Regions from separate parts of the Homo sapiens genome. Here all the other regions are linked to region 1. The links come from fine-mapping of genetic effects on gene expression. A gene starts in region 1. Each other region holds a variant in brackets. All regions are shown on one strand. Distances are from middle to middle.

What was found. PIP is the estimated chance that this variant, and not a neighbour inherited with it, causes the effect.
Region 2: its variant is the best candidate, but not a certain one, in a credible set for the expression of FEZ1 in whole blood (INTERVAL, PIP 0.85).
Region 3: its variant is the best candidate, but not a certain one, in a credible set for the expression of FEZ1 in whole blood (INTERVAL, PIP 0.50).
Region 4: its variant is the best candidate, but not a certain one, in a credible set for the expression of FEZ1 in atrial appendage (GTEx, PIP 0.66).

What each region holds. Positions count from the first base shown.
Region 1 is chr11:125,492,809-125,500,389 of GRCh38, reverse strand. It overlaps FEZ1 (fasciculation and elongation protein zeta 1), which reads left to right and starts at 4,125. Exons shown (of 10, transcript NM_005103.5): 1 at 4,125-4,269. LOC403312 (putative uncharacterized protein MGC39545) reads right to left here and starts at 5,176. Exons shown (of 2, transcript NR_164146.1): 1 at 4,775-5,176; 2 at 864-3,882. RefSeq lists a silencer at 3,938-4,187 and enhancers at 4,062-4,563, 4,564-5,067, 5,570-6,073.
Region 2 is chr11:125,468,453-125,476,033 of GRCh38, reverse strand. The region is part of intron 3 of FEZ1 (fasciculation and elongation protein zeta 1); the gene reads left to right. Among named protein-coding and RNA genes, the nearest start is that of FEZ1, 24 kb to the left of the region's middle. The variant C/T (reference allele first, on the strand shown) is at 3,395.
Region 3 is chr11:125,559,722-125,567,302 of GRCh38, reverse strand. No RefSeq gene overlaps it. Among named protein-coding and RNA genes, the nearest start is that of EI24, 6.0 kb to the left of the region's middle. The variant C/T (reference allele first, on the strand shown) is at 3,053.
Region 4 is chr11:125,394,622-125,402,202 of GRCh38, reverse strand. It overlaps PKNOX2 (PBX/knotted 1 homeobox 2), which reads right to left. Exons shown (of 13, transcript NM_001382323.2): 7 at 4,141-4,329. Among named protein-coding and RNA genes, the nearest start is that of FEZ1, 98 kb to the left of the region's middle. The variant C/T (reference allele first, on the strand shown) is at 2,754.

The DNA.
Region 1 (7,581 bases):
ACTTTCTACTACCAAAATTTGTACTAGTTTCCTAGGCCTGCCACGACAAATGATCTTTAAATAGAAATTTATGGTTTCATGGTTCTAGAGGCTGGAAGTCCAAAATCAAGCTGTCAGCAGGGCCATGCTACCTACTGAAGGTCCTGGGGAAGAATCTTTTCTTGCCTCATTCTAGCTTTGGGTGGTTCCTGGCAATCCTTGGTGTCATTTGGCTTGTACCTGAATTACTCCAATCTCTGCCTCCTTTCCTATGCATGCTCTCCTCTTGTATTTTTTGTTTTTGTTTTTGACATAGTCTTGCTTTGTCACCTGGGCTGGAGTACAGTGGCATGATCTCAGCTCACTGCAACCTGCGCCTCCCCGGTTCTAGCGATTCTCCTTCCTCAGCCTCCCAGGTAGCTGGGATTATAGGTATGTGACACCACACCCTGCTAATTTTTTTTTTTTTTTAATTTTTAGTAGAGATGGGGTTTCGCCATGTTGTCCAGGCTGGTCTCGAACTCCTGACCACAGTTGATCTACTCACCTCCCAAAGTGCTAGGATTACAGGTGTGAGCCACCATGCCCAGCCTCCTCTCCTCTTCTTATAAGGACACCAGTCATTGGATTTAGGGCCTACCCGAATCTAGTATGACCTCATCATAACTGATTACATCTGTAAAAGTCACATTCTGAGGTTCTGAGTAGACACAAATTTTAGGAAAATACCATTCAATCCACTGCAGGTTCTAAGCAGCAGAGTTTGGAAATCAACATACTAAACATGGAACCTCTTGAAAGCATGCCTTCATTTTTAGCTCCCCAGCTTCTAGCCTAGGTCATGGAATGCAACCAATGCTTGCTGGAATTTGTACACCGATGTTGACAGCAGCATTATTTTTTTATTCTTTCTTTCTCACTCTAATCCCATGACAGATTAGTAGCATTATTCACAATAGCCAAAAGGTGGAAACAATCCAAATGTCCATGGGCAGATGAATAGATAAACAAAATGTAGTATATACATACCATGGAATATTATTTACCTTAAAAAGAAAAGAAATTCTGACATTGTTGCAACATAGATTAACCTTGAAAACATTGTGCTAAGTGAAATAAGTCAGATACAAAAAACAAATATTGTATAATTACACTTACATGAGGTACTTAGAATAGTCAAATTCTTAGAGACAAAATTAGAATAGTGGTTACCAGGGGCTGGGGAAGGGAGTACTGGGGAGTTAGTGTTTAATGGATACAGAGTTTCTGTTTGGATAACAAAATTTCTGTAGATGAATAGTGGTGGTGGTTACACAGCAATGTGAATGTGTTTAATACCAGTGAATTGTACACTTAAAAATGGTTAAAATAGTAATTTTTATGTTATATATATCTTACTACAATAAAATAAGTGTTTGCTGGAAGAATAACTGGGCTCATGTTCAGGGATTTCTCATCCTAGGTACCTAGCCTAGGCTACTTGTCCTCAGCTTTCAGTTTCTTCATAGCCTCACAAAAATAACCACAGAATCCACTAATTGGTTTCTTATTATATGCCAGGCACTGTGCTAAGCATTTTGCATGCATTATATTACTTAATATGCATAACAACAACCTTGTAGTAGATATTGGCATCCAACAGCAGATATTGGCATCTCCATTTTACAGATGAGAAAACTGAGGTACAGAGAGGATAACTAACAAGGTCACCAGCTGAAGACCAAGTTCTTTATCACTTTCAGTACTTCACAAGCTTCTCTCAAATCTGTTTGTCCCATGCTCTGAAGATCTAGACAAAAGATGGCCTCAAATTAGCCAAGACATATATATATATACATATATATACACATATATATATACACACACACACATATATATACACACACACATATATATATACACACACACATATATAGGACATCTATATGAGACATATATATGGGACATCTATATGAGACATACATGTGGGACATCTATATGAGACATACATGTGGGACATCTATATGAGACATACATGTGGGACATCTATATGAGACATACATGTGGGACATCTATATGAGACATACATGTGGGACATCTATATGAGACATACATGTGGGACATCTATATGAGACATACATGTGGGACATCTATATGAGACATATATGTGGGACATCTATATGAGACATATATGTGGGACATCTATATGAGACATATATGGGACATCTATATGAGACATATATATGGGACATCTATATGAGACGTATATATGGGACATCTATATGAGACATATATATGACATATATATGTGTGTGTGTATATATATACACACATACATACATATAGTGCCTTCTAATAAACCTGGAAGTACTTTACTCATATTCACTCCTTTAATCCCACAACAGGCCACAATAGAGTGGGGCACTATTATTTTCTTTCTTTTTTTTTTTTTTGAGTCGGAGTCTCGCTCTGTCACCCAGGCTGGAGTGCAGTGGCGCAATCTCGGCTCACTCCAAGCTCCGCCTCCTGGGTGCACGCCATTCTCAGCCTCCCGAGTAATTGGGACTACAGGCGCCCGCCACCACGCACAGCTGATTTTTTGTATTTTTGGTGGAGATGGGGTTTCACCGTGTTAGCCAGGATGGTCTCGATCTCCTGACCTCGTGATCCGCCCGCCTCGGCCTCCCAAAGTGCTGGGATTACAGGCGTGAGCCACCGCGCCCGGCGGGCACTATTATTTTCTTCATTTTACAGATGAGGAAATGAGCCACAGGGAAGTTAACTAACCCAAGGTCACAAAACTGGGCATGATCCCAAGAAAGGAGATCTAGGGATCTTTTAACCAGCTACTCTTTGTGATTTATTTATTTATTTATTTACTTTTGAGACAAGGTCTTGCTGTCGCCCAGGCTGGAGTGCAGCTTCAACCTCTTGGGCTCAAGCGATCCTCCCACCTCATCCTCCAGTGTAGCTGGGGCTACCAGGATGGGCTACCAGGATGGGCCCACCATGCCTGGCTAATTTTTTTTTTTTTATAGAGATGGGGTCTCACTATGTTGCCTAGGCTGGTCTTGAACTCCTGGCCTCAAGTGATCCTCCTGCCTCAGCTTTCCAACATGTTGGGATTATAGGTGTGAGCCACCGTGCCTGGCCTTATGATTTCTTACAGGAAGACATCCTCTGTCTATTGCTCCCACAAAGGCAAATAGGCCAACGCTTCTTCTCATCTCATTGGGACATTATTCCTGTTTCCATCCTTCTCATGGTTGAAATGTCTGTGGAATGAATGCATAAACGAGCAAAAGAGACGCTCCCTGCCCCTTCCAGTTGAAGTCCTCAGTTCAGCCCAGAGGTACTTTGCCATCAGACAAAAGTACTTGGGGTTCTCCAAGCCGACATGCTTTTTCCAGTGCCTTCCTTCGATAATTACAGTTCTTGTGCTCTTAGTTGTGTGTATTCGTGAATTATTAGATTTTTTATTGACAACTTCTATAAGCACAGGCCTATGCACAGTAGACAAGATAAATTAATAATTTTTCACAAGACTCCAGGGACCCTTCTCATTTCAGCCTCTTGAATTTTCCTGTATTATCTCAAGTCCTCCTGGGCCTGAAACCTTCTCACTCAGATTTTTCAGCTGGATCCAGCTCCCACCCAGCATCTTTGGGCGAGAAAAGCTCTCCTGCCGGCCTCCTCATTTTTGGCTTGAGGTCCGAACCCAGTTGGAGCTGGGAGACGTCGCTGGGCCTGCCCGCCTCAGCCTCCAGTAGAGGAGAATGGGAAACTCGGAAAGTCCAAAAGGGTCTTTGAGTGTGTCTGCCGGCATCCGCCAGCAGCCATCGCCTGCATTTTATCCAGAAACTAGTGTCAGGCTTTGCGAGGTATCCATATTGGTAGTTATTGCACGCTTTCATCTTGGAGTTTCTGAATATTCATGAGGGAAGCAGAAAGGCCAATGTTAAAGAGGAGAGAAACAGAAATGCATAAATATTAATAAAGGCAAGCCCACGTGCTCGGAGGAAGGCTATGAATGTTAACGAGGGGATGACGTCCAGCTCCCGCGCGTGCCAGTTGGGTGGGTGCCCGAGCGCGGGCGCGCCCCCGGAGCCCGGGCACGAGCGCGGGGAAGGGGTGGGGTGGAGGCGGGAGCGGAGCCGGGCGCCGCCGGAGCTGCGCGGGGAGCGCTCGCTGGCTGGCTGGCTGGCTGGCTCTCCGCTGCGCTGCGCTGCGCTCCGGCCGCTCCCGCGGCCCGTGGATGGGGGTGTCCGGCTGAGCCCCGGGATCCGCCTCCCTCCGCCAGGACCCGCACAGGTGCCGTCGCGGGGGTTGACTTTAGTTAGGACCCGACTCACTGCTGGGGGTGGGGTCTGGTGGGGGTGGTAAGGAGGCCCCGGGATTCTCTGACAGGACGGTCTGGGGTCGCCGCAGCTCCCCTCACCTGGTCCCATTCTGGGATTAGAAAGGAACAACGGGAGGCCGTCGCCTTCCTGCCCAGCCCTTCAGGGAGCGCAGCTGGGACGCCGCGCCAGGCCCTGGAGATGTGGGATGATGGGCACTTCCAGTATCATCTCAGCATCGGCCCTCCAGCCAGGCCTGGTGTGTGTGTGTGTGTGTGTGTGTGTGTGTGTGTGTCCGCGTGTGTGTGCCCGCGTGTGTGCGCGCGTGTGAAGGCAGGGCGGCGAGGTATGGGGGCTGGGGGAAGAAGGGAACGCCGCCCGATCGCGCTGGGGCAGTGGGTCGGTACCTCGTCCCGGGACCGTTATCTGGTCCAGTCACCGTAAACGCCCCAAGATCATCTTTGTCCCTAAAAACTTACCCCCGACCCCGCTCGTGCCCCTCCCCAGAGTGCGGAGCCTTCCCCAGACCGCGCATTCCTGCAGTGTCAGAACCGCTGGCAGCGGCCGCAGACGCCGGGAGAGCGATTGTTTTACTACAGACGGGCGGGAGAAGGGACCGGGGCGGCTGCGCGGTGGCGGGGCGCGCTGCCGTCGGGTGGGCCCCGGGCTCTGGAATGCGGGGAGCAGTGTTTGACGGCGTCGAGGAGGTATCACAGCCCGCTCTTCTTCCCTTTTGCCTATCCCTTCTCTCCTCGCCGCTAGGCATCCCCGACTCTCATCCCTCTCCCGTGTCCGGGCTTGTTTGGCCGGAAGGGCAGTGGAGTGTGTATGCGGCCTGCACGGGATGAGTCCGGCTTCCTCAGAGTGCCAGCCATTGTGCTGCCTGGAGGAGGCTTTCTTTACCCCACCGGACTGGGGGGAGGAGGGGGATCTGAGATGGAGGTGAATGGAGCAGCGGGAGGAGGGGGAGGGGAGCAAGCAGAACCGCGAAGGGGTTGCTGATCCATATGCAACGAAATACTTTTTCTGTCAAAATGTGCACAAACATGCACACTGGGTGGGTTCTGCGGAGGAGCAGTGGGAAATCTGAAGGTGGATCAGTGCAGGGTAGGTTTTAGGGACGGATATGGGGGACGAGGCACGGAATCAGTTGATCTATGGACCAAGTGATGGGAAGAAGGAGATGGAATGGGGCTTGTGTGGAGGTGCCGAGGCCCAGCGGGGTTAGCGTGGTGAAATCTCCACCGCTCCGCTCCACTCGGGTCAGCTCAGCAAAGCAGGGACTGAGCATTTGTACCGCAGCCCCGAGATGCAGCGAGTGCATCATTGTGCTGCAGGGAGACGTTTATGCGTTTCCTACTGGGTCTCTGTTAAGCCCCGTGAGTGTCTTTTCTTTTCCAAATTACACCATCTATTGGGAGTGAAAATAAATGGAATAGATTGTAGGACAATCAGACTATAGTCCTGCGCTCTGTTCTGTGGTAAAGAGAAAAAGAAAAGGCGACCCTCCCATGGTTCCTTCTTTCTGCCATTTTCATGTATGTACGTATTTATTTTTGATCTTGGAAGTCTAAAGGGAATAAGCTATCGCTTGTATTAATCCTACTTTAAGGAAAAGAAGGCTCCCAGATGAGCTATGAATGAGGATGGTGCAAGCTTGCCAGGATGGAAAATAAGGTTGTTTCAGACATTTTAGTTGAAGGATGAAAGCACTCCGTGAAGAGAGGAGGGCGAAAGAAAGTGGGCTAAAGGAAGGAAGGCAGGGTCACCATCTAAGGAAGTGCTGCCAACCCCAATCCACAGAGCCCTCCTGGAGGCTATAGTGGGGCCAGTCAGAACGCCTGACTCTCATCTGTGCCACAGCCTGAGGTCTTTCCACAAATGCTGGATTCAGTTTGGGTGTTGAGTGACTAGTTTCCCAGCACTGGCTTTCACTTTAACTTCATCTCCAGATGGTCATTCATGCAGCACTTCTTGGCTCTTGGATAATGAGTTGACAAAAAACAATCAGTCTATATTATGGACTGTTTCAAATGAGCATGTGTCTGAACCCTAGAGCTGTGATATTCATTTCGTCTTTTATAATTTTCTAGATGAATCCATTTTCTCTACACTCTGCCTGGGCAGAGTGCTTTCAGCACACTCTTCCTGTTGCCAACACTCAAAACTCAGTCTTAGTCCTAGATTCTGGTTGGATTGGCCTCTTGTTGCTGGTTAATCATATAGACTGTGTCATTTCAAATCAGAAACCCCACTGGTGTCACCATCTGCTTCTCCCCTGTCATTCCCAGAGAAAAGTACAAATTTAAAGGCAGTGTAAATACCTGCAACACTATCGGATTGGCTTTCATATCTCTGTAAAATGGAACCCACGATCCAGGAACCTTTGAACAAATAAATTGAAAAAAGAAGCCTTAGTAAAAAAGATGCTAAAATTCTTTCAGCAATAGTTCTCTTGTTTGATAAGCATATTGAAGCATTGCACAGAGAATATCATGGCAGGGATAATTTTTCTTTTACTTGAAGCACTCCCACATCACCTTTCTTTCTTTCTTTCTTTCTTTCTTTCTTTCTTTCTTTCTTTCTCTCTTTCTTTCTTTCTTTCCTTCTTTCCTTCTTTCCTTCTTTCCTTCTTTCCTTCTTTCCTTCTTTCCTTCTTTCCTTCTTTCCTTCTTTCTTTCTTTCTTTCTTTCTTTCTTTCTTTCTTTCTTTCTTTCTTTCTTTCTTTCTTTTCTCTCTTTCTTTCTTTCTTTCTTTCTTGAGATGGAGTTTCGCTCTTGTTGCCCAGGCTGGAGTGCAATGGCATGATCTCGGCTCACTGCAACCTCTGCCTCTTGGGCTCAAGCGATTCTCCTGCCTCAGCCTCCCAAGTAGCTGGGATTACAGGCACCTGCCACCATGCTCAGCTAATTTTTTTTTTTTGTATTTTTAGTAGAGACAGGGTTTTGCCATGTTGGCCAGGCTGGTCTTGAACTCCTGACCTCAGGTGATCCACGCACCTCAGCCTCCCAAAGTGCTGGGATTACAGGCATGAGCCACTGTGCCCAGCCCCCACATCACATTTCTATGTAAGTTAGCTATCCTGGTTTTCCTAGAATTATTTTTAACTTTTTTTTTTTTTTTTTTAAAGATAGGGTCTCACTTTGTCACCCAGGCTGGCATACAGTAGTGTGATCATAGCTCACTATAGCCTCAAACTCATGGGCTCAACCAATCCTCCTGCCTCAGCCTCTCCAGTTGCTGGGATTACAGGTGTGAGCCACCGTGCCCAGCTTTGATTTTTCTA
Region 2 (7,581 bases), 24 kb after region 1:
TTATTAAACTCAATGTAATTAGGTATTCATCCATGTTTTTAAGTATAGCAACAGTTCATTTCTTTTTATTGTTGAGTAGTATTCTGTTGTATGGATATATCACCAGCGGCTTATTCATTCGCTTATAGATGAACAGTTTTTTTTCTACTTTTTGCATATTTCAAATGAAGCTGCTGTGAACATTTTTCTGTAGGTCTTTGTGTGAACATATGCTTCCATTTCTCTTAGATAAAAACCTATGTGTGGAATGGCTGAGTCATATGGTAGGTGTATGTTCAACTTTTTTTTTTTAGCTTTTATTTTAAGTTCAGGGGTACATGTGCAGGTTTGTTACATAGGTAAATTGTGTCATGGGGGTTTGTTGTACAGATTATTTCATCACCCAGGTATTAAACCTAGTATACATTGGTTATTTTTCCTGATCCTCTCCCTCCTCCCACCCTTCATCCTCCAGTAGGGCCCAGTGTGTATTGTTCCCTTCCGTGTGTCCATTTGTTCTCATCATTTAACTCCCATGTCTAAATTTTTAAGGAACTACCAAACTGTTGCCCAGTTTGAGAGCTGTAATTGTCCCATATTCTCACTAACACTTGTTATGGACAATCTTTAAAATTTAGACATCTTCATGGGTAGTAACAAAATTGATACCTTATTTCAGTTCTAATTTGCTTTTCTCTAGTGACATAGAATATTGAGCATCTTTTCAAGTGATTATTTACAATGTGTGTGTGTGTGTGTGTGTGTGTGTGTGTGTGTGTATTTTTGAGACAGGGTCTTGCTGTGTTGCCCAGTCTGGAGGGCAGTGGCTCAATCTCAGCTCACAGCAACCTCCACCTCCCGGACTCAAGCAATCTTCACACCTCAGCTCCCCAAGTAGCTGGGACCATAGGTGCACACCTCCACACCCAGCTAATTTTTGTATTTTTAGAAGAGATGAGATTTCACCATGTTGCCTAGGATGGTCTTGAATTCCTGAGCTCAAGTGATCCACCTGCCCCGGCCTCCCAAAGTGCTGGGATTACAGGCGTGACTGTGCCCGGCCTGTATGTTTTCTTTGGTGAAATGCCTCTTCAAATCTTTTGTGCATTTTTTTAGTACATTGTTTGTGTTCTTAGTATTGAGTTGTAAGAGTTTCTTTTTTTCTTTGAGTTGGAGTCTTGCTCTGTCACCCAGGCTGGAGTGCAGTGGTGCAATCTCAGCTCACTGCAACCTCTGCCTCCCAGGTTCAAGTGATTCTCCTGCCTTAGCCTTCTGAGTAGCTGGGATTACAGATGCACACCACCATGACTGGCTAATTTTTGTATTTTTAGTAGAGACGGGGTTTCACCATGTTGGTCAGGCTAGTCTCGAACTCCTGACCTTGTGATCCGCCTGCCTTGGCCTCCCAAAGTGCTGGGATTACAGGCATGAGCCACCGTGCTTGGCCATAAGAGTTTCTTATAAATTCTAGATAAAAATTATTTGTTGAATGTATGTTTTACAAATATTTTCTCCTAGTCTATAGGTTGCCTTTTAATTTTCTTAACATTATCTTTTGAAGAGCAAATGTTTTTTAAATGTGATGAAGGCTGAGTGTGGTGGCTCAAGCTTGTAATCCCAGCATTTTGGGAGACTAAGGTGGGCAGATTGCTTGAGGCCAGGAGTTAAAGACCAGACTGGGCAACATAGTGAGATCCCCTCTCAAAAAGAAAAATTAGGCCGGGCGTGGTAGCTCATGTCTGTAATCCCAGCACTTTGGGAGGCCAAGGTGGGTGGATCACGAGGTCAGCAGATTGAGACCATGCTGGCTAACACGGTGAAACCCTGTCTCTACTAAAAATACAAAAAAAAAAAAAAAAAAAATTAGCCTGGCATGGTGGCACGTGCCTGTAATCCCAGCTACTCAGGAGGCTGAAGCAAGAGAATTGCTTGAACCCGGGAGGCAGAGGTTGCAGTGGGTTGAGATTGCACCATTGCACTCCAGTCTGGGCAACAGAGTGAGACTCCATCTCAAAAAAAAAAAGAAAAGGAAAATTAAATGTGATGAGGTCCAATTTATTGATATTTTCCTTTTTATACTTTGTGTTTATGTTGTATTTAAGAAATCTTTGTTAAACCCAAGGTCACTAAGATTTTTTTCTTAAGTTTTCTTCTAGAAGTTTTATAATTTTAGCTCTTGTATTTAGGTCTATGATCCATCTCAAATCAGTTTCTTTCTGTTTTTTTTTTTTTTTTTGAAATGGAGTCTTGCTCTGTTGCCCAGGCTGGAGTGCAGTGACTCAATATTGGCTCACTGCAGCCTCCACCTCCCAGGTTCAAGCAATTCTTCTGTCTGTGCCTCCTGAGTAGCTGGGATTACAGGTGCCTGCAACCATGCCCAGCTAATTTTTGTATTTTTAGTAGAGGCAGAGTTCTACTATTTTGGCCAGACTGGTCTTGAACTCCTGACCTCAAGTGATCCACCCGTCTTGGCCTCCCAAAGTGCTGGGATTACAGGTATGAGCCACTGTGCCCAGCCTTCAAATTAGTTTTGTATATAGTATGGAGTAAGGGTCAGGGCTCATTTTTTAAAATTTTTGATTCCCAGGTTGCTGTTTCCCAGGTTGGTCTTGAGCTCCTTGGCTCAAGCCATCCACCTGCTTCAGCCTCCCCAATTGCTGGGACTACCGAGGCACTCCACAGTGCTGGGCTTCAAGGTTTATTTTTCTGCATATGGCTATTCAATTATTCCAGTACCATTCATTGAAAATCTTATTCCTTCCCCATTAAATTGTTTTGGCATCTTTGTTGAAAATCAATTGATCATGTATGTGCGGATCTACTTCTGAATTCTTTTTTCTGTTTCAATGATATATATATGTGTGTGTCTTTTTTTATCATCCCTAATTTATTTTAAAATGTGTCTATCTTTATGCCAATCCCACACTGTATTGATTGCTGTAGCTTTATGGTAAGTCTTGAAATAAAGTAATATAAGTTCTCCAACTGTGTCCTTTTTTTTTCTTTCCAAATTTGTTTTAGTTATTTTAGGTTATTTACATTTCCATATAAATCTTGGAATCAGCAGATGAATTTTTGCAAAAAATCTTGCTGGAAATTTGACTTTGATTGTGTAGAATCTACAGACCAATTTATATATGTAGATCAATTTATCATGTTAATGTGATGAATTACATTAATTGGTTTTCAAATATTAAACCAGCATTTTATTTTAAAATAAACCCCACTTAGTTATGATATTTTATCTTTTTTATATAATGTGGGATTTGATTTGCCGATATTTTATTAAAGATTTTTGCATCATGTTCTTTTTCTGAAATTTTATTTTGTTCTAATGTCATAAAATAAGTTGGAAATTATCCTCTCTATCTCTACTTTGTGAAAGAATTTGTATTACATTGGTATTATTTCTTCC[C/T]TGAATGTTTGATAGACTATACTAGTGAAAGCATCTGGGCCTAGGGTTTTCTCTGTGGAAGATTTTCAGTTACAAATTCAATTTTACTGAGTCAGGTTTGATAAGTTACATTTCTCAAGGAATTTATCTATTTAATCATTGAATGTATTGAACATTCATTTGTTTATAATTTTGTTTTGTTATTGAAAATGTCTGTAAGATTTATAGTGATGTTCCCTTTTCTATTCCTGACATTGTTAATTTGTGTTCTCTCTCCCTCCATCCCTCTCTCACTCTCTCTTGTCAGCTGGTCTGTGGGATTATCACCTTTATTAATCTTTTCAGAGAACCACTTTTTATTTCTTTGATTTCCTTTATTGTTTGTTAACTTTTTAGTTTATTGATTCCCTCTCTTAGCTTTATTACTTCCTTCCTTCTACTTAGTAGGAGTTTAATTTGCCCTCATTTTTTTAGCTTCTTAAGGTAGGAAATTTGATTATATTTTAAACTTAAAAAAACTTAAAGCTATAAAATTCCCTTTAAGCACTGTTTTAGCTGAATTCTACATATTTTGATTGGGTATGTTTTCATCATTCAATTAAAAACATAGTTTCTAATTTTTTCTTGCAATTTCTTCTTTAACCCATAGGTTATTTGGCAGTTTGCTGCTGAATTTCAAAGTGCTTGGGAGGTTTTATAGCTATCTTGTTAAAAATTGATTTCTAATTTAATTTTGTCAGAGAACATACTTTGTATGACTTAAATCTTTTAAAATACGTTCAGACTGATTTAGGGTCCAGCATATGGTACGTCTTAGTGAATGTAATATATGCCATTGGAAATGATGCACATTCTGCAATTGTTGGTTGTAATGTGCTATAAATGTCAACCAGGTTAACTTGGTTGATAGTATTGTTGAATTCCTGTGTTCCAAATGATATTTTTTGTCTGTTTATTCTATCAATTAATGAGAAAGGTTTATTAAAATCTCCAACCATTGTTGTGCATTTATTTCTATTTCTTTAGTTCTGTTGATTTTTGTTTTATATATTTTGAAGCTCTGAGTACATCTCCCTGATGAGTTGACCCTTTTATCATTATGAAATGTCATTCTTTCTCTGTAATGCTTATCTTAAAATCTACTTTGTTTGATATGAATGTAGCCACTTAAGCTTTCTTATGCATACTGTTTGCAAAGTGTGTGTGTGTGTGTGTGTGTGTGTGTGTGTATCTATCTCAATCCTTTTAGTTTCTGCCTATCTCTGTCTTTTTATTTAAAGTGTGTTTTTGCAGGTAGTGTATACTTGGATCTTGTTTTTATATTCAGTCTGACAATTTATGCTTCTTGATTATTGTGTTTAGTTTATTTGCATAGTGTGTAGTCCATTGACATTTGGCATAATATTGATAATTTGTGTTGGAGCGTATTGTCTTCATTTCTGATTGTCCCATCTGGTTTTGTTGCTGTTTTGTTGTTCCTCTGTTCCACACTTTTTGTCTTCTTTTGGGTTAATCAAATATTCTTTGGCTTTGCATCTTATGTCTTCTGTTGGATTTTTATCTATACCTTGTCGTATTTTTCTTTAGTGGTTTCTCTAGGGGTTACACTATACATTATTAATTAATCATAGTCCATTTAGAATTAATATTGTACACTTTACATAAAATGTAAAACATTTGTCACAGTATAAAGTCTATTCCTTCCATCTTTTGTGCTATAATTGTCATATATTTTATTTCAATCTACATTATATACTCCACAACACAAAGTTATTATTTTTGCTTTAGACAGTTAGTTGTCTTTTAAGAAAATCAAAAGAAGGAAAAAAAAGATACTTTTAAAATATTTACCTATGTATTTATCATTTCTGGCATTCCTTATTTTTTCCTGAAGATTCTGATTTTCTATCATTTCCTTTCAACCCAAAATGCTTTTTATAGCATTTCTTTTGGTGTAGAGCCACAGGTGACAGATTCCTTTAGCCTTCATTTATTTATCTCATTTATTTCATGTTTTTCCCTTCTTTCAAAACACACAGCCTTGCACTGCCTGTGTCCAGTGCCTGAAAACAATTGGCTCATAGATTTTGTCCAGATTGTAGTTGTTTATGGTAGGAGGGATAAGTCCAATACCAGTTACTCTGTCATGGCTGAAAGGGGCCATCTCTTCTGTTTTTGCTTTCTAGAATTCCTTTTATTCAAGTATTGGACTTCTGAAGCTGATCTTCTGAATATTTTTCCCCGCCCATAATTCTATCTGCTTATTTTGTTTCACTCTCCAGGGAACTTTCTCAGCCTTCAGCTCGATGGAAAAGTCTAAATTTTCTATCATACCTTTAATTTCTAAGAGCCCTTTCCAGTTTTTACAGAATTTGTGTGTTTTTAAAATTTTTTTCTGGTCTTAGTAAGTGTACATCTTTGTAGTTTTTAAATGAATTCTGATAAATAGGACACATTTTGAGGAAGCAAGGTGTTCTGTTATCCTTCTGAAGGCAGGTATAGCAGTTTCTTAGAAGAGGTTTCTTCTGCTCTCTCTGTTGCTTTTGATTTCTCTTCTCTATACATTTTCATCTTTCATGTTGGGGGCTATTCTCAAATGTCTGGCAATCCTTGAGCATCTTTTCATATTTAAAAGTGAGGCTTTATGGCCAGGCATGGTGGTTTACTCCTATAATCCTAGCACTTTGGGAGGACAAGGCAGGGGGATCCCTTGATCCTAGGAGTTTGTGACCAGCCCCATCTCTACAACTCTACCAAAAAACAAAAACAAAAAAAACAAAAAGGTAGCCAGGGGATGGAGTGCACTTGCAGTCCCAACTACTTGGGAGGCCAAGGCAGGAGGATCACTTGAGCCCAGAATTTTCAATACCAGCCTGGCCAACACAGTAAGACCCTGTCTCTACAAAAAATTAAAAAAAAAAAAAAAAGCATTAGCTGGGCCTGGTGGCATGCACCTGTAGTCCCAGCTACTTGGGAGGCTGAGGCTAGAGAATCGCTTGAGCTTAGGAGTTTGAGGCTACAGTGAGCTATGATTACACCATTTCACACCAGCCTGGGCAACAGAGCAAGCCCCTGTCTCTAAAAACATTAATTTTAAAAAAAATGGCTGGTGATAGCTCACGCCTGTAATCTCAACACTTTAGGAGGCCGAGGCAGGTGAATTGCTTGTGCTCAGGAGTTTGAGACCAGCCTAGGAAACATGGCAAGTTCCCCATCTCTACAAAAAATACAAAAGTTAGTTGGGCATGGTGGCATGCGCCAGTAGTCCCAACTACTCAGGAGGCTGAGGTGGGAGGATTGCTTGAGCCGGGGAGGCAGAGGTTGCAGTGAGCTGAGATCAAGCCACTCCCCTTCAGTCTAGGTGACAGAGGGAAACCCTTGGAAAAAAAGAAAGTGAGGCCCTAGAAGGCTATGGGGTCAGGGCTTGTTTCCTGCTGGATCACAGTGCCAGTAAGGACCTATGCGTCTTGTTCGGAGATCTTGACAGTTGGCATGTATTTGTAGACTTATAGCATCCATAGAGAGGTGTTCTCCAATGGCTTGATGGACAGAATAAACCAGCTGCCAGTGTCCTTGGAGCCTACTCAGGGAAGGAGGCCAGAGGTCTGTCTGGTGAGTCATTCTGTAGAGTCTTACATCCTCTCTCTGTTTTTGGTGAGAACCCTCACCCTCACTTTTAGGTGGCCTGGTGCTCTGAGTCCAGAACCTCCAGTTCAACCTGCTCAGAGTGAAGTCTACAGTCCTTTTGAGCTGAGAGGATGCAGTCCCTTTTTATCTGGGTTGGAAGAAGACACTTGGGTCTCATTATTCTTGATGAAGAATACCAGCAAATCTTCCTTACATAGCCCCGCCATGCTGCCCCTCGGGGTCTGCAATTCCTGAGCCATTCAGTATCTGCTGTGTGACCCCCTTTACCTTGGGCAGCCTGCTCTCGCCAAGTTTAACCCTGCTGAGCCTGCTGGGCCGGCGTCTGTTTTCTGGCATTTCTCTTGCTGTTGCCTTTTCTCCTGTTCACTTTGTCCCTTTTGGGTTATTCTTTTTTGATCCCTTGACTCTCATTTTAGTAGGGTTTGAGGAGGAAGGGCTGATAAATTTGTGCCCAATCTCCTGTGTACCCACCTTCTACTATAAAGAAATGGAAACAGGAAATCATTTTAAAAATTATGTTATGGGCTGGGTGTGGTGGCTCACACCTGTAAGCACAGCAC
Region 3 (7,581 bases), 67 kb before region 1:
CTCGAAAGCCAAGCTACAAGTTAAGTCCTCAGACCAGATTGAGAACTTGTCTTCCTGTCTTGCATGTTTTCCTCTGATTGATCCCCACCCTTCACCTATTTTACATATACCTACCCTTTCCTGATTGGTTTTCTACACTGTTGTGCCCACCTTTGAGTGGTGCCTTTGCTTTAACCTTTCTTGCATAGCCACAAACCAATCTGCACATACTCCCCATCCTGTGCCTATAAGGACCCCTGACTTAGTCAGTAGAGTGGGAGACCGCCTGACTTTGAGGAAGACGACCTGCCCTTCCTGTCCCTTCTCCAGCTCCCCTCACTGCTGAGACTCGTTTTCATCACTAAAAAAAATTCTCTGCCCTCAACATCCTTCTTTGTTTTTTTCTTTGTTTTTTTTTTTGAGACAGAGTCTTGCTCTGTCACCCAGGCTGGAGTGCAATGGTGCAATCTCAGCTCACTGCAACCTATGCCTCCTGGGTTCAAGCAATTCTCCTGCCTCAGCCTCCTAAGTAGCTGGGATTATAGGCACCTGCCACCACGCCCAGCTAAGTTTTTGTATTTTTAGTAGAGATGGGGTTTCACCATGTTGGCCAGGCTGATCTCAAACTCCTGACCTCAGGTGATCCACCCACCTCAGGCTCTCAAAGTGTTGAGATTACTGGCGTGAGCCACCGCACCTGGCCCGCCATCCTTCAATCCTGCATGTGACCTCATTCTTCTTGGACACTGGACAAGAGCTTGGGACCCACCAAGTACAGGTACCCAGAAAGGCTGTCACACTGGTCCTTTGCCCCCACCAGTGGAAGGCAGCTGCCCCACGTGACAAGGCAAAGGGCCAACTGAGCTACTAACACACTGCTGTTTGTGGATGATGAAACTAAAGGAGCACTGTAACACCCGCTCTGAGGCTTCAGGGTCATGGGCACTTTCACCTGGGCACTGCAGTGTTCCTCTTGAGGCAACATGCCTGGTCTGGCCACAGGCCCCACACAGAGCTTGCTCCTGTGCCAGTGCCCAGAGTGGCTGGCTGGATCTTGAACTTGCTTGCTCATGTGCTCCCTCCTGCAAGTGGTTGATTGTGGTGGGCCTGGTAGACAAGGCGCCCCCTTCCATGAGTTTGTCAAAGGGGCCAAGAAAAATCCTGCATCATTAGGGGCCAGATCTCCTAGCTTCCAGCCTTGGAATCTTCTAGGAGAGAGAGATACTATGATTTATTAAGCATCTACTATACCAAGCCTTTTATATTTATTATTTCAACAACAATTTAAGTGTTGTAATGAAAAATTATCACTATTTTTTTTTGTTTTTGAGATAGAGTCTCACTCTGACACTCAGGCTGGAGTACAGTGGCATGATCATGGCTCACTGAAGCCTTGACCTCCTGGGCCTAAGCAATCCTCTTGCCTCAGCCTCCTGAGTAGCTGTTGTAGCTGATTTAAAAAAAAATTCCATGCCTTCCTATTAAGAAAAAAAAACTCCAACCAGGTTTGTCTAACGCCCGATTCCACACCCTTTCCTCTACCATATTTGTGTTCCATTATGGATCACAAAAGTCTTCTCATTTAAATTTAGGTTGTGTATTGTCATTATTAAAGTAGTGCTCCTCTTTGTTTTGCCTGTGGTTGCTAAAAGAAAAAAAGAGAGAGAGAAAGAAAATAATGAAAGTGTTGGCCAGTATGGTGGCTCATGCCTGTAATCCCAGTACTTTGGGAGGCAGAGGCGGGTGGATCACCTGAGGTCAGAAGTTTGAGACCAGCCTGAACAACATGGTGAAACCCTGTCTCTTCTAAAAATACAAAAATTAGCCTGGTGTGGTTGTGCACACCTGTAGTCCCAGCTACTCAGGAGGCTGATGCAGGAGAATCACTTGAACCTGGGAGGTGGAGGTTGCAGTGAGCTGAGATTGTGCCACTGCACTCCAGCCTGGGCACTAGAGCGAGACTCTGTCTCAAAAAAAAAAAAAACAAAAAAAAACTGCCATTCCTCATGGGTCTTACAGATGCAACTCCCTGCTGGGAACTCAAGCCCTTTTTTTTGCCAGGAAAGGTAAAATCATCTGGGGGTAGAACCAAAAAATGTACAGGTTAATAGAATTATGAAATTTAAGATGTTTAAACAGGGTTTATGTAACGTAGTTGTAATCTCTTTGCCTAAATGTCTTATGAAAATGGGTATTGTATCTAGCTGGAGGATGCTTCCCCTATCTAGTACTATAAAACCAAAGACATGTAAAGCTGCTCTTTTGAAAAGTGTTAGTTGGACATGTTAATGGGAAATAGTAAAATCACCTGAGCCCACAAAGTATCAGGTAGAAGCTAGAGTACTAGTTGGGACAAATCATCCCCTTCATAGCCCTTTGTGGAGTGTTTATTGGGGATAATGGCAAAAAACAAAACAAAACAAAAAACTCTTATAAGTACTTCCCAATGACAACTACCGGACTAGAGAATTTCCACTTGAGGTGCATTTACTGCCTTGCTATGAAATGTTAACTGAAGCTACCCCTATGCTAACTGAAATAATGATGCCCCAAAGAGTTCCATGATAAAATAAAATCTTGCCACCTGGGGATACAAGGAGGAGATACTCATAAGCAGGGAGCCGCTTTCTCCCTAGGACTGATTCTAACTATGTATGTGAGGAGCTGCTAAATTCTGCAGTGCCTGATAGACAGCTTTCATGAGCTGTTTGGCTTACGAAGGGCATTTCCAAGGTAAACAAACATCTTGTTTGAAACTCCTGACCTCAAGTGATCTGACCGCCTTGTCCTCCTAAAGTGCTGGGATTACAGGCCTGAGCCACCACACCTGGCCAGGAACAGCAAATTTGATAAGGCTTCTCAAACAGTCCTATGATTTTGCAAGAGGGAAACTTATGTAAAAGGGGACCTCTTAACCCCCAAATTTCCCATGACCTGGGTAATAGGCATCTTCAGTGGGAGGATATCCCAGTTATCATAAAGCCAGTCATTGCTCTCATATGAAGCATATTATTCAATAACTGCTTCATCTGGGGTGCTTCACTTGGTATTTTATAGGGAGAGCTGGGTAGTC[C/T]GCTTCACAGGGCAAACAGACCTTACAGTGGCATTTATCTGGTCTGCTAGCTGATCATTCTTTCAGGAATAACCTCCTGTGCATTTAGATTACATATACTTATCAGTGATTGTTCAATAGTGAGCTGTGGGCTCTGCATTAACCCAAACAAGTTCTTCAATTCTGTAGCATTTAAAATTAAGGATTTTGTCCATAAATTGTTTATTTTTACAATCCACTATAGTAAAGATTTTTTAAGAAGCTGATGATACCAATCTACAAAATGGAACCATTCCTTTACATTATACCCTCTGGGTTTGTTTTGTTTTTTGTTTTGAGATGGAGTCTTGCTCTGTCACCCAGGCTGGAGTGCAGTGGCATGATCTTGGCTCACTGCAACCTCCACCTCCCAGGTTCAAGCGATTCTCCTGCCTCAGCCTCCCAAGTAGCTGGGTCTACAGGCGCCCACCACCACACCCAGCTAATTTTTGTATTTTTAGTAGAGACGAGGTTTCACCATAATGGCCAGGCTAGTCTTGAATTCCTGACCTCGTGATCCGCCCACCTCGGCCTCCCAAAGTGCTGGGATTACAGATGTGAGCCACTGTGCCCAGCCTATCCTCTGGTTTTGATAGTTACTTGGTTTTGCCTTTCACCCACATCAACTATCTTCTTGGAAGCCACAGGTCTCTGAGATAAACTTATTTCCCTGTCTTAATTTGTGTTTTTTTTTTTTTTTTTTGAGACGGAGTCTCGCTCTTTCGCGCAGGCTGGAGTGCAGTGGCGCAATCTCGGCTCACTGCAACCTCTGCCCCCCAGGTTCAAGCGATTCTCCTGCCTCAGCCTCCCAAGTAGCTGGGACTACAGGCATGTGCCACCAGGCCCGGCTAATTTTTTGTATTTTTAGTAGAGACGGGGTTTCACCGTGTTAGCCAGGATGATCTCGATCTTCTGACCTTGTGATCCGCTCGCCTCAGCCTCCCAAAGTGCTGGGATTACAGGCGTGAGCCACCGCGTCCGGACCTTAATTGTTTTTTTAACCATTACTTTTACTTGTATACTTTTTCCTTCAGCTTAAAGTGACTTTTCAATTGTTTCTTAACTAGAAAGAAACACACTTTTTGTTTTTTGCAAAATCCTTATCTTTGTGTTTTATAAACTTCGCCAAAAACATTTTTTATGCTCCATTTTAATTTAGTAACCCAAATTTCCTATGGAAAAAAAAATCGAGGTTTTAACATAATATGACTTAAACCTTTTAAATTACTGGAGACAGTTTTGAGGTTAAATTTAACAAATTAATTTTACCAAAGATTACCAAGATCATGTGAATTAAAAGTGTCTGAGCTAATTTTTACTAATCTGATAAGCATTTCTTTTCTTTTAAGTCAATTGATTAGCTCTTTTATGTAGTTTGGTAGTGATAAAAGAAAAACTTTAGCAGAAATAAATTTAAAGGAGTTTAACTGAGCAAGGAATGATTTGTGAATCGGGCAGCCTCCTGAGCCAGAGTAGGCTCTGAGACTTCAGTGCAGCCACATGGTGGAAGAAGATTTATGGACAGAAAAAGGAAAGTGACATACAAAAAACGAAAGTGAGGTACAGACAGCTGGATTGGTTACAGGTTGGAGTTTGCCTTATTTGAACACAGTTCAAACAATTGGCTACATTTCATTGGCCAAAACCTTGTGATTGGCACAACTGTAGGCTACGGTCTGTTTACACCTCCACTTGTTACAGTTCACGATGTACAGATAAACCTTTAGGTTCAACTTAAAATATATAAGGAGGCAGCTTTAGGCTAAACTTTTTTTTCTTCTTGTCATACTTTAGTAGGCATAGGCTAATCTTGATTTAAAAATTCCCCACTTTTGGTCATCTTCTCAATTTTGAGAGATTGACCAAAACTTCAGTCATTGATGTCACTAATACCATCATAAATGTACTTATTTGGTCTTGAAACCCACTGGGAAATAGTAGAACAGCAGGTTTTGTAAAGTAGGAACAAAGACTGAGTAGAGGGTACCTCCTTAACAAAGACTGAGTAGAGGGTACCTCCTTATGCCTGAACATCCTGTTTATAGGAGAAAAATAAAACCTGGTCTGGTCTAGAACCTATGTGTTTTCTTAAAGTCTTAGTTTGATTATGTCACATTTAGCATGAGTAACTCCATTTTGGTTTGGTCTGGTCCACTGGGGCCTAGTTCATGAGCTCAGTCCAAAACAATGGCCTCCCATAATGTTGTTTTAAAATTCCCCCCTTTCAGTCAGGTTCTTACTTAGGTGAGGGTGTGACCAAAACTTAGGGCCTCAGCACCACTCTCAGTTACCATCATTTTGGGTTTCCGGTCTCAGCACATCACTTATAGGTTACAGTGTCCTTATGGTCAGACATTTCTTTCAGCTCTTGAAACTGTAGTTGAAGAGAGACCATTTGACATTCTAGAGATGGCTGCATGCAAACACTTAAAATCTTTGAGAGAATACAGCACACCAGAGAGACTACTATTATGACTATCAGGAGGCTAACACCAAGAGTATGGAGTATGCTCCTTACCAATGGTCTCCATAAACCAAACCACGTAAAACTAAATAGATCAAAGAATGAGTTAGATAAAGAGTCTACTCACGTAACTAAGCAGTCTCTTAATTAATCCCCTGCAACTGAATCTCTATAATGTACATTTGAGGTATTTCTCCATAGACCACAAGTGCCAGCAGGTGCACAGATACTTCTGTTTAGCCAGTAAGTAATCTAGAGCAATACTATTATTTAGCATAACTTTCACAAGAGAATTTAAAGTCTGTTGCATAACCATGGCCTTTACAGCAGAATCTGCTATAGAGCCTATCATGAGGGATACATTTCTAATCATTGCCTCTTTTACTCCAAACCGTCGAAAAAAGGACCTAACAAATGATGTCCTTCTAGAAGAGTGAAGGCCTCCTGGCAATATTCTCTTTAACCCATGATGTGGGTTAAGAGTAGTGAACCAATGTTCTGTTTCTGGCTGACTGTGAGGCAATGTATGTATCGTTAAAGTTTCTCAACCTACGTTGGGCTTTCATCTTTCATCTATCAAAATGTAAGGTTATCTGTGTATAAAGCTGGCTACAAAATCCCTGACAAATAAAAGTATACCCCATAAGTGCACAGAACAGACCCCCTTTTCACCTCTATTGTCTATAGAGGCATAAGCAAAGGGAAAAATATTCAAAGATAAATATTCTACTATCTCATGATAGTAGAGAAGTCTTGATTCATGATCTTGGGAAAAGCTGTCCACATCAAGGATGCCATTTTCTTAGGAGAAACTTCCCAGGTTAGCTTTTCCTTAAGGGTTCCAATGGGTGTACAGTTCCAAGAGTGTAGAGGGACCCTTCTTGGTTGTGAGATTGTGAACCCAAAGTTCAAGGTCCCAAAGTTTTGCTACAGTGTAGATGGCAAGGGCAGTGTTTTTCTGATGTTCTCAGAAGATCCAGTCTTCAGGTTCTAGATTATGAAGGGGTTGATTGTACTCAGTCAGTGAACCATAAAACGCTTTCTTTACCTTGTCAAAATACACTATGGCATAATAATCTACTATCATAACATTAGCTCTCTTGCATAGGAAAGCTTTTATACAACTAGAAAACGTGAATTGAAAATGACAATTGGCCAGGTGTGATGGCTCACACCTGTAATCCCAGCAATTTGGGAGGCCAAGGTGGGTGGATCACTTGATGTCAGGAGTTCGAGGCCAGCCTGGCCAACATGGTGATGGTGAAGATGGTGAAACCCCTCTCTACCAAAAATACAAAAATTAGCTGGGCGTGATGGCAGGCACCTGTAATCCCAGCTACTTAGGAGGTTCGGGCAGGAGAATTGCTTGAATCCAGGAGGCAGAGGTTGCAGTGAGCTGAGATCATGCCACTGCAATCCAGCCTGGATGACAGAGTAAGACTGTCTCAAGGTAAAAAAAAGATAATTGGATGAAATCCCTCTATAAATGTTTAAGTGGCCCGTCAGGTAGCAAAATTTACCTATAGCTTTGATCGTCTTTCCAGGAATATGGCTTTGACAAATGAAACATTAGTCATAAACTATTTTAGCAATTTAGAAGTCACCACACCAATATATGTTTAATTTGGATCATTTTATCTTTTCCGTGATGAGTCATGGAATGCAGAACTTTTAATAACAAGAGCTTTAAGGACTCAGGAAAGACAAGGCAGCCATCCCAGTTTTCCATGAGTCCATGCTTAACATTGAACATATGCCTTCTTGAATACCAGTTGTTTCTCCAATTTAGGAGCATAGCACTAATAACTGATGGGTTATCATAAGTAATTTGACTTAGACCATGGAGTTCATTGTGTATCTACACAATTTTAGTATTGGCTGATTTAGCATGAAAATCTGGCAAAGTATTTTCTTGGTATTCAATTAATTTTTGTTCTACTTTGGTTAGCAGTTTTATAAACCAGTCAGTCCTTTCATTACAGTTCCAGGAATTCTCACCCAGTCTAAATGATATGATTATGAAGTTGTCAGAAACCTGTATTCAAAA
Region 4 (7,581 bases), 98 kb after region 1:
CTTTGAAAGTCTGCTTTAGTCCCCTGCTTGGTAGAACAGTCTCCCTTACTTCCCATCTCCACTTTGCCCAGCAGAGAAGACTCACACAGAGAAATCGAAGGCCGAGCAGGAAAACGCTCAACCCATCGATCTGGATGGAGGACACGGCATAGCATCTGGGAGTGGGGATACCAAGTTGAAAACAAAAATGTCTCCCGCTTTGCAACACAAGGCTGGATGATTAGCACACAGGGAAAACCATGAGCCAGCAGTTTGCAACAAAGCTGGCAGGCGGCTGGAATGTTGATCCAGAGGATCATGTTCCAGAGGGGAGACACCCCTCCCCAGGCCAGGCTGGTGCTCAGGCTATTTCAGGCCGGGGGGATTAAGGGTGAACCATGACGAATGCATGTGCCCGCGTGTGCACACACATACACACACACACACACACACACACTCACAAGCTCCTTTTCTCTCTCTCATACAGGCTCCTGTGTCTTGAACCCAAGACCTGCCTCCTGCACTGAAAGTCTCGGTCCCCGATTCTTAGCAGCCCTGGGCCTCTCCTTCCTGGGAGAGCCCATGCAAGCCCGGCCCCTACCTTAGTGCAATAATGACAGGGGCCTGTCCTGGGAAGGCTTAAGAGACGTGTGAGTGTGCAAGTGGGCCGAGGGATGGCCAGAGAAGGCAGGAGAGCAGGTTAGGAAGCTCCTGCCATAGCCTATGTGTAATTACCGTATTTACCCCTGAAGCCTGAGCAAAGCAGGCAGTGGCAGTCAGAGAAAATGCAGGGGCAAGTTTGAGTAATACAACAGGAGCAGCACATAGCACATCCTCCTGACTTTCCCGCCTCCTCGTACCCTGGCTGCGCACTGAGCCACATGCATTGTCCTTTCACTTGCTGTCACTCTTGCTGCCGTTCCTCTCTCCGTCTGTCCTTCTGCCCCGTCGTTCTCAGTATCGTCTCCCTTTTCCTGGGTTTGTGTGCCTCCCTGTCTCTCTCTCTTGCTCTTTTCCTCCAATTCTTCAGCCTGTCTCTGCTTCCCTCCTGAATGTTGACCCTGCATATTTGGCTTTCTTTCCCTTTATTTTTCTTCCTATTTCTCCTTTCCTCCTTTGGCTTCCCCTTGCCCCTGCCCCCCACCCAACTTTCTTTCTCTCATTCCATTATTTCTTTCAATAAATACTTCCCGGCCATCTTTCTTGCACAAGACCTTGTGGTAGCCACTGCTGGGGTCACAGGGAGAGTACACTAGGACTCTGAAGGGATGAGTCTATTTCAAGAGACTATCAGCAGGCAGAGGCTGGAAATGGCTGTTTTTGGCCTATAATAAGGTGATTTGGTGATTTCAAACATGTAAAATACTGTCTCTGCTCAAAAAGTGTTATCTAGGATAGGAAAATGAGATGAACACAGGGATCTATAATATAAAGTCACAGTGACTTTTGCCATATCGATGGCTCAGCAAGCTCCACCAGTTAGTGGAGTGCAGGAAGCGTCCATTCTGGATGGGGCATCAGGGAGTCCTCCTGGGTGAGCAGCCTTGTTCCTACCCTTGGGGAAGAAGCTGGGTTTGGTTGTGCAGAGATGATGGGGTTGTGGGGGAGGTGTCACCCGAACAGACAGGCATGGAGTGATGGTTACAGCACCTTGAACAGTCAGATTGGCCCACCCAGGAAGGCTGAAGCCAGACCTAGGAGGGCCTTGAATGTCAGGTGGGCAGATGTGAAAGCCCTCCCTTCCACCCCCAGGGGCATGGCAAGCAGGGTTTCTGAGCAGGCGAATGACATGAACAAAGTTAGAAAGATGAATCCAGCAGCAGAAGCTTAAGAGATGCATGGGTGTGCAGGTGGGCTGAGGGATGGCCAGGAGAGCAGGTTAGGAAGCTCCTGTCATAGCCTATGTGTAATCACCGTATTTACCCCCGAAGCCAGAACAAAGCAGGTGGTGGCAGTCAGAGAAAATGCAGGGACAAGTTTGAGTAATACCAAGTAGGAATACCTCACTAGTGTCTTTTCTCTTTCTCAGTGCCTCGCTTGCATCACCCCCTCCCCCACACCCACCACGCAATTGTCTGATTCCTCTTTCCCAGCTGATCAATGGCCTTTCTGCCGTGGGTACCCCAGGGCCAGCCTCACTTCCAGGCAGAGATCTGATGCTTCCAGTGATAGGAATCAAAATTCTTCTGTCTTTCCTCAAAGCTCAGAAGGCTGAGTGCCGGGATTCTCCAGGGGGACTGATTTTTGCAGGTGGCAGCATCTCTGAGAACTTAACCATCCAGAGTCCGCGTTATCCTTTTCTGCAAACCCCACTTCTCCAGTGACCGACTGGTTTCTGCAGACCAACTTGTCAGTCTCAGACCTCCAACCCTGAGGGGGCTGAGGTGGCTGCTAAGCCCTCTGCCCCTCCTTCCTTCCCCCACTACCCTGGTGCACCCCCAGCTCCAGAGCTCGAGGTGGAGTTGGAGGGCCCAGGAGGGGAAATCCAGTGCCTCTCCAAGGACCTGATTATTTCCAAAGACTTGTGCTAATTTTCTGATATGATCCTCACATCTCTGTGAGGCACTAAATCCTCATTACTTTTCCTGACCGATGCATTCTAATTAGATCAACACTTAAAAAAAATTCACAATAGCCACAGGATGGCTTTCCATCTCATTAACTCCTCACTTATTATTTTCATGAAAATTACTGATAAAAATGTGCATCTCCATTTGGCGAGGCCTCACAGCCTCCTCAGCTCCTATCTTGCATCTCTCCCATCACCGGGACTG[C/T]GCAGCGTCACCATGGTAACCCACAATAATAGAAACTAATAAATTACAAACGAGATGCTCGTTGAGCAATTATTGTCCTCTTTTATGCAAGTTTCTTGCTAATTTTGATCATAAGGGAAAGTACAATAAGACTCTGAAGGAATGAGTCTATTTCAAGAGAATATTAGCAGGCAGAAGCCCGGGCGGGTGTTTTTAGATCTGTAATAAAGTGACTTGGTGATTTCAAGCGAGAGGAAGAGGAAGTAAACTTCTTGCCCTATGTCCTGGGCAGTACTCACTACGGAGTCTCACAAAGAGCCCACTGGGGTGGGTTGGATGTGATACCGAGTGTATCTTTTGTGCTTGTTGTCAAAATGTGCAAAGCAAGGCTGGCCTTCTAGAAGTCAGCCTGTCCCCTCCCCTGACTCCACCAATCTGGGGAGATAGAGTACATGGGTGGTTCCTTAGGGGTCTAGGGACAAAAACGGCACAGCCTTTCTTTGGCACTACTTCCAGCACCTCTCGGCACTCACTCCTAGAAAGTTTACCTGCATCCCCATGCCTGATTGTTTAATGAGAAGAGGCTACAGAGGACTCCTTGGGGACCCTCCAGGTGTCTTCCAGGACTCAGGAGCTCAGTGGAAGGGGAACAAAGTCTCAAGCCTGTGGCTTATGCAGATGTCTGTGAGTTGGGCGGGAAGGTATTGCCAGGCAGCTTTCTCGGTTTGTAGGTTTGGGGAAAATATCCTGCCCTGGAGGGGAAACCCCATCTTGCCCAAAGCGTGTAGTCAGCATTTCTGCATTTCCCAGGTCTCAGGAAGGAGGTGGCAGGGGAACCTGGGAACAGGGTGGTTTGAGGTGACCTTGACCATGGCCCTGAACCTTAGGGGGACAGAGATGCCAGAGTAGCGTGAGTGCCTGGAGAATGATTAGGGAGCAGCAGGCCCATGGGAAGCTGGCTTCACCCATTAGGTGGGCAGGATTCAGGGAATGACTGCTTTCCCCAAATGCCCTTTCCCAGAAATGCAGATGGCTCAGCAAGCCGCAGCCTCTTAAGAAGCCTGTCCCAGCTCATCCTCCAGGAGAGCTTTCCTTCTCCTTAGCTCTGGTGCTCATTCTGGGGGATACCTTGGGCCAGGAAGCCAGGAATGATTTTGGACATTGTCCCTCTCCGATCTGGTCATTTTCAAGGGAATACTAATGCCCTGGCAGGGCAGACTGTGTGTAAAAAAGGGATGGGATGGCCTAATGGATATGAAGAAGAGTGCATCAGAGGAGGGCCCTCATGGCAAAGGAACCCAGTGGGTCTAACCCAGTGAAGGTCACCAGGGGACCTTCCTCCACGCGTGGCTCCAGAGCTGGGCTTAGGAGCCTGGCTTAAGAGATGGGACCCAGCTCTGGGTGTTACCTGTGAGTGAAGGTTGATGGAGGGCTGGTTGGGGGAGTAGGGCCCCCCTAGATCATTCCTGAGCAGGTTGTCGCTGTGCATCTTGGTTTTGAGGCAGGTGATGTAACGGTTACAAAAGTCCTTGCAGAGTTCATTGACTTTCTCCAGCTCCAGCAGGTGGATTCTCAGGACCTGGATTGCCTTCACCATCTGTGGAGAGGGAGGAGAGGTGAGCCCAGGTGTTTGCATCCCATTTCCCTCACTGCCTGGACCCCCAGCCCCCACCACCCCAGGGGAGGGGAGCCCACCCCCTGCCGTAGCTCATGCTTCCTACACTTGATCTTGGCCAAAAGGCCCAGAAGTGGTAGGCGGTGCCTTCTCATCCCCATGACTTCAGTTCTAATGATGGCTCTCTGCTAATTATTCCTTTGCTCTGAGCCCTCTGTTATCACAGCTGTTCTTGAGGCAGTTGTGGTATTCTGAGAACAGCATTGGCCTTAGCGATGGGAGGCCAGGTCCAAGCCCCCGGCCTGTCATTTACTATCTGTGTGAGCTTGGGCAAGTTGCTCAAGCTCTCTGTGCCTTAGTGGCTAACAAATGGGGATAATTAGATTCTCCCTGACAACTTTACAGGTTTGTTGTGAGTATTGTATGAGGGCGTATACATGGTAGCACATTGTGAGGTGTGAAGGACCAGGCAAGCCTGAGGAAGATGGAGATCAGAATTTCTTATAAGTGCCTCTAGAGCTCAGGGACTGTCTATTCTTAAACAAGCATTCTGAGTGCCTCATGGGATACCGGTTACCTTGTGGACGCTCTGTGGATACTTGCTGATGGACTGAATAATCCAGCATGACTTAGCTGGGCACCAGCTACCTCACTGTCTGCTGTGGCCTTTTCCATGCCCTTTGGATTGCTGTACGGGAGCCTGCTGCCTCTTCAAATGGACATTCCTAACCTTTTCGTGGCAAGAAGCTATTTTGCAATTGAAGCTTTGCTCTTTACTGCTGTTATTATCATAAAAAGAAAATACTATGGAAGGTATGGAAAGCAGGGTGAAAAAAACCTGTCTTCGATCCAATCGCCTTAAAGAATGATTTTTTCCTACACCCATATATTTTAACATAGTTTCAATAACCTTGTGCATGCAATTTTGTTTTCTGTTTTTTCCCTCTAGTTTAGCAAATCTATTTTTCTAAGTGCCAGAATTGTTTTCTCTATCCTCTCTTCTAGACTATGAGCTTTGAGAAGGCAGGGATGATGTCTAATTTGCTCACCATGTTATCTTCAGCACGAACACATATGGATATGGAGTAAACATTTGCTGAATGGGTGAAAGTTATTGAGTAAACATATTTTTAAATGTTGCATATTATTTCATGTGTGTGCCATACTTAACCAGTCTCCTATTGTTAGGTATTTAGATTACTTCCAATTTTTCAATTTTATAAAAAATGTTACAGTGAATATTTTCTAAGCTTATAGCTTTTTTTTTTTTTTTTTAAAAGTTTCTGCATTATTCTTTAGGATGAATTCCCAGAAGTGACAGGAAAAAAAGCTATGAACGTTCTTGTGGATTATGATAAATATTGCCAAATTGCTTTTCAACAGGGGGTTGTTCAAATGGTGCTAGAATAATTAGACATCCACATGCAAAAAAACTGAATCTTGATTTAAACCTCATACCTTAGATGAGATTAACTCAAAATGGATCAAAGACATAAATGTAAGACAGAAAACTATAAACCTCTTAAAAAAAAACAGGAAAAAATCTTCAGGATCTAGGGTGAGGCAAAGAGATCTTAGAGTTGACACCAAAAGCATGATCCAGGCTGGGCACAGTGGCTCACGCCTGTAATCCCAGCACTTTGGGACATCGAGGCAGGAGGATCACTTGAGGTCAGGAGTTTGAGACCAGCCTGGCCAACATGGTGAAACCCCATATCTACTAAAATTACAAAAATTAGCCAGTGGTGGTTGTGCATGCCTGAAGTCCCAGCTACTTGGGAGGCTGAGGCAGGAGAATCGCTTGAACCCAGGAGGTGGACGTTACAGTGAGCCGAGATGGAGCCACTGCACTCCAGCTTGGGCGACAGAGCGCAACTCCATCTAAAAAAAAAAAAAAAAAAAGATGATCCAGTGAGGAACTGGACGCTGTCAAAATTAAAAATGTTTACTCTTCAAAAGACCCTGTGAAGAAGAGGAAAAGACTACATACTGGAGGAGAATATTTGCAAACCAAGTACCTGACAAAGGACTTGTATCTAGGATATATAAAGAACTCTCAAAACAAAACAGTAAAATAACAAGCAACCCAATTAGAACATGGTCATAAGACATGATTAGACATTTCACTGAAGAGGATATACAGATGGCAAATAAGCACAAGAGAAGATATTCAATGTCATTAGTCACTAGGGAAATGCAAATTAAAACCACAATGAGATATCACTACACACCTATTGGTATGGTTAAAATAAAAGAAATAAATATGACAACACCAAATGCTGGTGAGGAACTGGAGACTAGAACACTCAGACATTGCTGTTAAGAGTGTAAAATGGTACAGCCACTCTGGAAAACAGTATGACAATTTCTTACAAAACTAAATATGTGCGTACCATATGACCCAGCAATTGTACTCTTGGGCATTTATCCCAGAGAAATAAAAACATATGTTCTTACAAAAACCTGTATACAAATTGTTCAAAGCAGCTTTACTTCTAATAGTCAAAAATCGGAAACAACCCAAATGTACTTCAATGGGTGAATGGATAAAGAAACTGTAATTCATCCATATCATGGAATATAACTCAGCAATAAAAAAGAATGAGCTATTGATATGCCCAACAATGTGGATAGATTGCAAGGGAATTTTCCTGAGAGACAAAAGCCAGTCTCAAAGGATTATATACTATATGATGCCATTTACAAAACGTTTTTGAAATGACAAAATTATAGAGATGGAAGACAGAAAGACAGATTAGTGGTTGACAGCGGTAGAGTGGAGGAGGGAGGGAGGAACTGTTCTGTACTTTGCTATAACAATGTTTATGTGGATCTAAGTATATGATAAAATTGCACAGAACTAATTACATGTACACACACACACACACACACACACGAGGGCACGTAAAACTGGTGAAATCTGAATACAGTTGGTGGATTGTTCCTGGCTGTGAAATTGTGCTATGGTTATACAAGATGTGAATCAGGAGCTCTCTGTATGAGTTCTTATAACTGCATGTGAATCTACATTTATATCAAAATTAAATGTAACCGCTAGGAGCGGGTGATGCTTATTGCTTTTCCAGATCCATTTATGTTGACGCAAGCAATATATGGGATCTCTTTTTAGTCCCACCCTCCTAGCTTTTGGCTAGCTCCTGGATGCCTAGAGGAGAGTTTGGACAATATAAAAAGGGATGGAAACAAGGAAGGAAATCTCTCCCAGAGAATTGT